Homo sapiens: one gene and its partners. The protein of the gene in region 1 interacts with the protein of each later gene in a pairwise test. Each region holds a gene or a part of one and is shown on either strand. Other genes may lie near its edges. The genes, in order: GTF2A1L, MAFF and NKX2-3.

Region 1 (3,655 bases):
CAAATGAATCAAGACTTGAGTATATAGATATAGATATAGATATAGATGATATAGATATAGATATAGATATATAGATATATATGAAATACTTGAAGAAAACATGAGCTTCCCTTTAAAACTCTGAGGTAAGAAAGAACTTTTTATTCATGGCTCAAAATGCAGAAGACATAAAATTAAAGATTGACAGATCCAAAATCTACATATTGAAAAGAAAAAGCAATGAAAATAACTGAGTAAAAAGTACTTCTGTGTATAACAAAAAGCTCATTTTCTCCAAAATAATATTGAGCTCTTAGAGATCACTAAATATAAGACCAAATAATCCAATTTTTTAAATAGACAAAGATTATGAACAAACAGTTCACAAAATGTAAATACAAAAGGCCCTTTAACATATGGAAAGTTAAAAATTCCAACAAGGTATCACTTTTCATCTTTCACAATGGCAAAATGCTCTTAGAGAGCATTTTGGGAATACCTAACCACGTACATTTGCCCTTTGACCCAGAATCCCATTTCTGGGGATTTAATAGATATATCTGCACACATTATGAAAATGTCTTATATACATAGTGGTTCAAATCAAAAGACTGAAAAATCACAAATATCCATCAGTAGAGGATTGGTTAAATGAATTTTAGTAATCCTACAATAGGATATTATACAGCCATTAAAATATCATCACAAAGAAAGCCTCCTCATATGGGAAGATCTGACAGATACGTTGTTTAAAGAAAAAAAGCAAGGTACAGAATATAGTGTTATTTATGCTATCTTTTGTATTTGTATTTGAATAAAGAAATTCGATGAAAACTAATATAACTACTTATTTGCATTCAAAACAGGAAAAGGAGCTACTAATAGAAAGCAAAAATGATGAAGGAATGTGAACCAGACTTTTCATTGTATACCTTTTTACAGTATTTTGATTTTTTAACCATGTGTATGCACTATCTATTCAAAGGAAATGTACATATATATAGACTATTATATAGAGAGATATATAGATACATATAAAGAGACTATATATACACATATATACATATCTCTCTCTGTATATATAAAGAAACCATGCTACACACCTAGAAATTAATCATTGTATAGCATCTAAGGGATAAAGTCAGCTATAAGCAAGTCTGCTAAACTGTCAAACGAAGATATAGGATATTCAAATGGTTTCACATTCCACTATAAATAGTGTCCTATTTGTAGCACAGAACACCTCCATCTGTAGTAAAAGGTTTCATTTCACCATTAATTTTCGCTATAATATCTTTATTATTTAAATCCTTATATTAATTTTAGACATTCTCTAGGCCTCTGAAACAAAATATCTATACCATTTAACTAATTCTCACCCAGTATGTAAACCAGTGGCCTTCATTTAGCCCTTTTGCACTGTACATGTTTATATTTTCAAAGTTTTCCCCCCAATTGTTAATCTCTAAATTTTAAAGATAAATTCCATCTGTTAATCAAATCCAAATAAAATATACTAAAGAAACCAAACACTGCTTCTCAAAATTTAACGGCCATACAAATCATTTTGGAGTCTTGTTAAAATGTACATTCTTATCCAGTACTCTGGCGTGGGACTCAGGATTCTGCATTTGTAATAGTTTCCCAGAGGAACTGATACTACCTGCCTTTAAAATAAGCTGAGTAAGTTAGCAGAGTGGCATAACAAAAGCGTGCTAAGCCCATAAAACACACTGAATTAGTAAAGCTCTAAAAGAGACTACTGAAAGTTCTTTCAATTCACTTGAGTTGGGTTACATTCAATACTATTTGAAACAAATCAACCAGTGACCAGCACTGGAAAGTTTTTCTTTCATAAAGATTCACTATAACAGTGTTCCTCACCCCACTTTGACCTTTAGATACATTCTTTTGGCTATCTTCTGACTACATCACTCCCCTTTTAAAATGTTTCAATGGTTCCCCAATGCCCTGCTTTCCATTAATTTTTTACCACTGTTCTTAAAATATTCACTAAGTAGAAGGGTTCTCAGATACTAGATTTGTTAGCAGTGTATATTTAATATCACCTCTATCTATTCCATAAGGTTATTATAAGAAACAAAAGATAATATATGATAAAACACCGCAAAAATACAAAGTACTACATAATTAATTACAAGGTATCTCCCACATTGCGGCAAACAAAGGATACCACATCCATAATGGTCTAGAAAATTCTGCATGAGACTTTATGGAATGTATATATAATTAAGTACCTTATAATGTTTTTTTATAGAAGGCAATATATTGTTTATAAGAAACTAAAACAAGTTTCAAACTAAGAACTGTTCCTTTTCTATCCCCTATTCCTTCTTATGTTTATATTTGTATTCAGCATCTAAATTGCGGTTTTCTATTTGTATAAAATGTTATAGTGGAGAAAGTGACCTTATTTTCAGAGAAAAAGATTTCTTTTTACAGCAATTCAAAACATTATTCTTTGTTTCCCCCTAAATATATTCAAATTGTGACTGGAAAAAAAAAAGGCTAAATATGTAAATACGCATTAGTTATCAGGGAAACACAAATCAAAACCGCAATGATATACCATTTCACACTCATTAGAATGGTTAGAATTAGAAAGTCGGATTATGGCCAGTGCTGGCCAGGATGTGGAGAAATTGAAACCCTCGAACACTGCTAATAAGAATGTAAAATAGTACAGCCACTTTGGAAAATAGTCTAATAGTTCCTTAAGCTGTTACCACATGACCCAGGAATTCAACTCCTGAGTATATGCCAAGACAGATGAAAACATATGTCCACGCAAAAACCTGTACCCAAATGTTCATAGAGGCATTATTCATAGCAGCAAAAAGGTATCTATGGGGTTCAGAACACATTACCCCATATGTGTTCTGGCATCCTGACATTTGAAAAAATGGCAGAAGCAGGAAAGTCTTTCTGACCTTGCCCTCACCCTTCTCCCCTGAACCAGGCCATAAAAGGATTATCTGACCTTCCTTTAAAGTAAGTCATAAAACCTTTATTACAGAGGTCCCTACCCTATACACAAAGGAAAATAAGTGTCCTTATCTCTGAAGACACAGAGACACAAAAATCTGAACAAACAGGCCTTACTACGTTTCCTCCAGTTTATTGTCATTAGATCATATCCTTTTTTCCTCCTATCATACTTCGGTATGACTGTCCAGAAAAATAGTTTTCCCTGTTTCTTTGGGTCTTCATTTCTAAATATTCCTGTGTCGGCTGGGTGCAGTGGCTCACACCTATAATCCCAGCACTTCCCAGGTGGGTAGATCACGAAGTCAGATCCAGACCATCCTGGCTAACACGGTGAAACCCCATCTCTACTAAAAATACAAAAAATTATCCGGGCGTGGTGGCAGGCGCCTGTAGTCCCAGCTACTTGGGAGGCTGAGGCAGGAAGATCCTTTGAACCCGGGAGGCGGAGCTTGCAGTGAGCCAAGATCACGCCACTACACTCCAGCCTGGGCGACAGAGCCAGACTCCATCTCAAAAAAAAAAAAAAAAAAAAAGTTTCCTGTGTCAGTAAAATGTACGTTAAAATAAATTTGAATGATTTTCTCTTGTTAATCTGTCTTTTTTATAGGTGCCTCAACCAGGGAAATAGCAATGGGTAAGGAAAAGGTATTACTTTTTTCTCCCCTAC
Region 2 (2,662 bases), on another chromosome or scaffold:
CCCTCTGCTGTCCACAAAACTGGGTGATGCTCTTTCCGATACGGTACGTGTTTATAGGATGCTACAGCTCAGATCACAAAGCATCTTCCTTTGTTTTCTTTTTATTTATTTATTTTTTTTGAGATGGAGTCTCACTCTGTCACCCAGGCTCCCAGGCTGGAGTGCAGTGGCGCAATCTCGGCTCACTGTAACCTCCACCTCCCAGGTTTAAGCAATTCTCCTGCCTCAGCCTCTCAAATAGCTGGGACTACAGGCATGCACCACCACGCCTGGGCTAATTTTTGTGTTTTTGGTAGAGACAGGGTTTTGCCATGTTGGCCAGGCTGGTCTTGAACTCCTGAACTGAGGTGATCTGCCCGTCTCAGCCTCCTAAAGTGCTGGGATTACAGGCGTGAGCCACCGCGCCCAGCCTATCTTCCTTTATTTTCCTTGGCTTCTTATCACTGCCCCCTCCCCTTGGAGACAGATGAGAAAACTCAGGTTCTCATGGCGGAGAACCTGAGAGGATTGGCAAAGTAGATCCTATCAGCTAGAGACAGAGAGGACTGCTGCTTTAAAGGGGACTTTGGGAGATGGTCCCCTTCTCCAGCCCAGAGCAATGACCACTGACCCTCCACGAGTTTTATTCACCTTTTTCTCCCCATTACCAAGTACATGTTTGGCAAAGAGCTCAATAAATAGTTGTTGAAGGAGCATGTGGCTGTCAGGCCTGTGGGAGGGAGGATTAGGAGATGAGAGGCCCTCATTGGTCTAGGGATGGCTGCCCCATCTGCCTAGGGCATGCTGAGTTAGTATGGGGCAGCCCCCAGGAGGTTGGGAAAACTTTCCCAAAACAGAGGTCTAGATGAAGGAGGCCTGGGGAGAGAGGGGACTGGCTGATGTTGTATCTTACGGGGTGCTGGATGGGCTTTGTGTAAAGGCATTTACTGGTGCACATATGCTGTGTGTACTTTTCTGTATGTAGGTTATACTTTAAGAAAAGTTCTGAAAAATTGGCTGGGCACAGTGGCTCACACCTGTCCAGCACTTTGGGAGGCTGAGGCGGGTGGATCACCTGAGGTCAGTAGTTCAAAACCAGCCTGGCCAACATGGCGAAACCCTGTCTCTAAAAATAAAAATAAACTAAAAATACAAAAAATTAGCTGGGCGTGGTGACAGGCACCTGTAATCCCAGCTACTTGGGAGGCTGAGGCAGGAGAATCCCTTGAACACGGGAGGCGGAGGTTGCAGTGAGCCAAGATCGCGCCCCTGCACTCCAGCCTGGGTGACAGAGTGAGACTCTGTCTCAAAAAAAAAAAAAAAAAAAAAAAAAGAAAGAAAGAAAAAGAGAAAGAAAAGTTCTGAAAAATCAAATCAAAGGCACATGTCCAAGCCCCATGTGGAAGAATGGTCAGGAGAGGCACATCTATTCATTTGGTGCACACTTACTGAGCCATCTACTATATACCAGGCACTGATTTAGGCATATTGATGCCGTGGTGAGACAGGGAAGGCCTCTGCCTTCATTGGCTTCCGTTTTGGTGGAGGAGGAGTGGGAAGGAGAAACAAATCATAGATGAGGAACCAAGCATGAGAAATGCAGAAGAGGTGACTGTTACAAGGGTTAATAGGCGGGGTTATGTGATGTGACACAGAGGCGTTTAGCCAGAATGGTCAAAGAGGACCTCCTGAGGAGGTGACATTGGGCAAAGACCTAAATGATGAGGAGTCACCATGGGGCTAGAACAGTAAAGAGCACAGCCTGTGCACAGCTCCCGCGGCTGGAAGGAGCCATTCAAGGAGGCCTGTGGACCAATGTGGAGAGAGGAAGGTGGCAGGTATGAATCAGTTCTAAGATAGCAGAGGCCTTGAATGGCAAGGTAGTGAGTTTGGATTTTATTCTAAATGGGAAACCAAAAACAAAACAGTGACTTTGACCTCCTTTCTACCCTAGGTCTGCAGCCCAGAGGGCACCTTCTGCAAACATGTCTGTGGATCCCCTATCCAGCAAAGCTCTAAAGGTGAGGAGGCAGCCTCTGTCAACCCAGTGAAGCCCTCCCTCCCTGCCCATGCAGAGCCTCCTCATCCCAACTTCCCCTTCTTTCCTGGAATCCCCTGGGTGGCTCAGCAGGCACCAGGCCTTCATGATGCCAAAGGGAAGGGCCACAGCCATGGGCTGGGACCAGGAGGCCTGGGCTCTGGTCACAGGCTGCATGTCCCTGGGGTAGGTCACTTCCCTCTCCAGGCCTCCTTCCCCATCGGGTCAATGTCCCCTGGGGCATTCAAAGGTGCTTTCCGACCTGGGTTTCTCTGGCTGAGTCCAGGGCTTGGCGCTAGGTTAGAATTCAGGCTGAGCCCCGGGGTGGCCTCCTTTTGTGTCCCGATCCTAGTCTGGCCCGGTTTCCCCTTCCCGGATTCCTGCTCCCCTTCGGGGTTTTGGATCAAGTCCACCCACCACCTCGGCGGCTAAGGCGGTGAAAGAGGAACACCGCGGGTGGAGCGGGGGGGCCCGTCCCCAGTCCCCTGGACCTCAGTTTCCTCATGCCCGCAGATCAAGCGAGAGCTGAGCGAGAACACGCCGCACCTGTCGGACGAGGCGCTGATGGGGCTGTCGGTGCGCGAGCTGAACCGGCATCTGCGCGGGCTCTCCGCCGAGGAGGTGACACGGCTCAAGCAGCGGCGC
Region 3 (3,755 bases), on another chromosome or scaffold:
CTGCTGGCGAGGTGCTCGCGCTCGGGTGCCGACAGGTACCGCTGCTGCTTGAACCTGCGTTCCAGCTCGAAGACCTGGGCTTGCGAGAAGAGGACCCGGGGCTTCCGGCGGCTGCGTGGCTTCGGCCTCTCGCTCTCCTCCGCCGCCTTGCAGTCTCCGGCCGTCTCTAGAGACTTCTTCAGCTGGCAGCTTTCTGCGGAAGAAGCAAACAACAGCGTCCTTAGCTGTTCCCGGCCGCACCGCGGCTCCTGTCCTGGAGCACCGTGACCCTTTTTGGTGGCTGCGCAGAGCGTGCGGTAGTAAATGGCTGGACTTTTGGGAACGTTTGTGGCTCCTGGCGCTGTGGGACCCTGAGACAGCCCCAGTACCCAAAGAACGCCCTTAGCAGGCGGAGGCGCGTTTCGTGGAGAGGGGTAGTTAGTGCGTGTTTATTTGGATCTTGAGCATCTGCGAGAGAAGAGATTACTCTGTATTAAATATGCGGCTCGACGTGCTAATGACTATTTTCAGGATGAAGGCTTGCAACTACATAATAACTACAGTATTTGCAAACTCGTTTGCATTCTACTCCACCAAGGATAACTGAAGGTGTGAGGCGTGTTGGTATGAGTGGGCCGGTGGGCATGGGTTGCGCGAAAATCTGTTCTGAGTGTAACGCTTGTGCATGGCTCAGGGACTTGTGTGTGTGTGTGGCTTATAAAAGACTACAAGCGAATGTTATGACGACATCTGTGTGCACTTTGAAAATGAAGTTTGATTGACTAGTTATAGACAGTTTCATGCCGATTTTCGGCTCTGGGAACTATGAGAGCATAGGCCTTGGCCTCTGCCACATCAAACCGCCTCTTGGGGAAAGACTGTGATTCTGTCCTCTTAAATACACTTCCTTGGGGACTTTATTTGATTATCCCATCTCCCTATCAATTCACTTCCCATCCGATGTGAGCAGCCAAGATCTCGGACTCAAGTTCGGCGCGTTTTCTATTAGGCCCGCAGCCTGGGACACAAAGCAAAACGTTACGGATTTTCAAAAAAGGCTGGCGCCTTAGGGATGTGAGAGCTATGGTCGCGCGGAATAGACATTGTTCCCACGCACTTTCCGATCATCTCCTCTCTCTCTACCGAGTGCCACGGGTTCAAGGACGCTGAGCTCCAAGCAGAGAAGGGAGGAAACCGCCCAGCTGGCCTCCACCAAAGTTCCTGCCCCTGCGGGTGCGAGAGACACAGGCTGCTTGGGCTGTCTTTTCGGAGAAGAAGGGGTGGCTGCCCTGGGCTAAGAGAACTCATCTCACCCTAGAGGGAAAACGAAAAAGGTCCAGGCTCCTGCCCTTTTTGGGGGAAGAGCCTTTTGGGGCGGGGGGAAGAGCAAAAATACTGCCAGTTATGAGGACCCAGGCGCTGAGCCCACGTCGCCTCTCAGCATCAGGGCAGCAGTAACCACCTTCCCTTCCCTCATTTCCCCCTTTTGGGGGGAGTAGTTGTCAGGGTCACCTCGTCCTTGTCTCTCCACCCCGGCTCCCTTGCAGGTACCTGCGCTTTGTGGAGCTGTCGGTGACCAGGGCGGAGGCATGGCCCCAGCCAAAGGGTAAAGGGATGGGCAGCTGCGCTGGCAAGGTCTGTGGGCTGTTTGTGTGCGCTCTGCCATTGCTCCAGGTGTGCGGGTGCGTTTTCTTTCCCCCTCTACTCACTTTGGCTCCGGTCCCTCACGACCTCGGGCTCCTCTTCATGTTCCTTGGGCTCGCTGCACGAGTCTCGCAGGACCGTGTGGACATAGCCCTGGGGACACAGCCCTGAATCCCCGTGGCCGTCTGCTGCGGCTAGTGAGTTCAAATAGGACAATTTCTCGCCCTCGTCTTCCTCGTCCTCCTCCCCTCCGTCAGAAAATTGCGTCCCCTCAGCGGCGGCCAGCATGCAGGGCGCAGAGTGGAAGTGGTGCTCCAAGTCCGCCTGCAAGTGCGCACCATGGAAGTGCTGGTGCTGCTGCTCCAGATTCAAAATGTCTTTGACTGAGAAAGGGGTGGAGGTGACCGGGCTTGGTAACATCATCAGGGCCACTTAATTGTCCAGTCCAAATAATAAATCCCGGCGGGGGCGGGGAGGCAGCGCGGCGGCTCCAGCTCTCCTCCTGGACTCCGCCGCTGCTGCCGAGTCGGGCTTTTGACAGACGCGGTCCCACTCCAGTCTAAATCGCCTCCATTGGCCGGGACCTGGGGGTCTGGGTTTTGTTACAGCCACTGCAGGGACTGGGGCCCGGGCTCCTAAGCCTCTGTCCGGGAGATTTGCGTCACGTTGGGGGGGCGGGGCTGGCGCCCCAACCTCCCTCCCTATAGGTTCTGGCTCATGTGGGCCACGCCCCCTGCTCTCTGCGAGTGGGATGTTGCGGCTCTACCAGAAATAGACAAGGACTAGTATAGAGTCCTGAAGTCCGAGACGCTGCGGGCGAGGCTGCACAGATCCGGTTCCTGAACCATTGATTCCCGCGTGGCTGCACCTTCCCGACCTAGGCCAGTTCTGGGAGGCTTGCTGTCCACGAACCAACGCCAGGGAAGGATGCCCCAGGAGTGTGTTTTTTTCAGCTGCTGCGCGGGGCAGGAAAACTTCCTGGCGGGTAAATACTGGGCGCTGGATCCACGAGGAGATGCAGTGTTTTATCTATCTATGGGTGGGCGACATGTCCTTTTTCAACTTGTTGCCTTTGCTCAAGCTTTCTCTCCACTTGGAACATGTTTCTGACACTTAGCCTCCACGAGTGGAAACTGTTCTCCAAGGAAGAGCTCCTAGATCGTCTAGCCGGAAGTCCCCTCTTTCAGGCTCTGAACCTGCAGCTTGTGTTAGCAAAGGACATGCATGTCACTTATCACTTCCCACTTAATTCTATAGCTGTATGTGCCTGCCTGGTCGCCCCAGTTAGACTGTAAGCTCCATGAGGGCAGTGTCCCGGGGTTGCTTTTGCCCTTGTATCCCTGGCAGCAGCCGCACAGAGCAGTATGTGAAAGGAAGATAGAGTTATGACTAAACTTTGGTATTCGACAGCTCTTGCTTGGCCTAGTCAGTGTGTGATCTTCGGCGTTTCTAAGTCTGTTTTCTCGTCTATAAAACGAAGGCAGTAATACCTTTTTTGGTTGTTGCTAGGGTTGAATGAGGCAAAACATGCCAGAATCTTAGTGCACGGCCTCACGCGTGTTAAGCGCTCAGTACGTGTCAACGACTGCTTTTCTGTATGGGAGGTCAAGCAGTGTTTGTTGACTGCATTGGTGGTGCGTGGCTGGAGTGTGGCACATACTGAGAGCAGGATCTGTCCTCACAAGGGAGGTGACCCAGCCTTGGCAGCCTTCTTTTCCACCTATTGAAATCAGGAGCCTGAATGTAGGCCTTGCCTCTCCGACAGGCTTTTAAAATTTCTCTACCTACACGCCTTCTGGCACCTTCATGAGGCCCTGGTTGTTTTCTGGGGGAGTCTATACAGTCCCCCACAGATTCTGGAAACTCTGAGCTGGAAACTCTGGGACCATCTTCTCCCACAATAGGCATTTGCTCGCTACCAGGCCTAGCCCAGTGAGGAGCAGCGGGCGCTGCTTTGAGGGCCACAGAAAGACCCGTGTGCAGCGCTGGCCTTAAAAAAATAGGGAACGGTTCCAGCTCAACCGTGGCTGTCCTCATCCGGCCCCAGCCAATCCAAGCATTTTTTGGCGGTCAGGATGGCGGAGCTGAAAGAGACCCGTCTCACCTGGAAGGGGCAGGTGAAAGGTGCAGGG

What was found.
Region 2: the proteins of GTF2A1L (region 1) and MAFF interact in a two-hybrid assay, tested with the Homo sapiens proteins (one large-scale study listed by BioGRID and IntAct).
Region 3: the proteins of GTF2A1L (region 1) and NKX2-3 interact in a two-hybrid assay, tested with the Homo sapiens proteins (one large-scale study listed by BioGRID and IntAct).

The regions. Positions count from the first base shown.
Region 1 is NC_000002.12:48,673,226-48,676,880, reverse strand, and holds part of GTF2A1L (TFIIA-alpha and beta-like factor), read right to left. Parts: intron 1-3,655. UniProt on the Homo sapiens protein: May function as a testis specific transcription factor. Binds DNA in conjunction with GTF2A2 and TBP (the TATA-binding protein) and together with GTF2A2, allows mRNA transcription.
Region 2 is NC_000022.11:38,211,890-38,214,551, forward strand, and holds part of MAFF (transcription factor MafF), read left to right. Parts: intron 1-1,683; exon of another isoform or gene 1,684-1,794; coding exon of another isoform or gene 1,795-1,817; intron 1,818-1,933; coding exon of another isoform or gene 1,934-1,964; coding exon 1,965-2,000; intron 2,001-2,530; coding exon 2,531-2,662. UniProt on the Homo sapiens protein: Since they lack a putative transactivation domain, the small Mafs behave as transcriptional repressors when they dimerize among themselves.
Region 3 is NC_000010.11:99,531,423-99,535,177, reverse strand, and holds the start of NKX2-3 (homeobox protein Nkx-2.3), read right to left. Parts: upstream 2,237-3,755; 5' UTR 2,047-2,236; coding exon 1,689-2,046; intron 448-1,688; coding exon of another isoform or gene 221-447; exon of another isoform or gene 220-220; intron 194-219; coding exon 1-193. UniProt on the Homo sapiens protein: Transcription factor.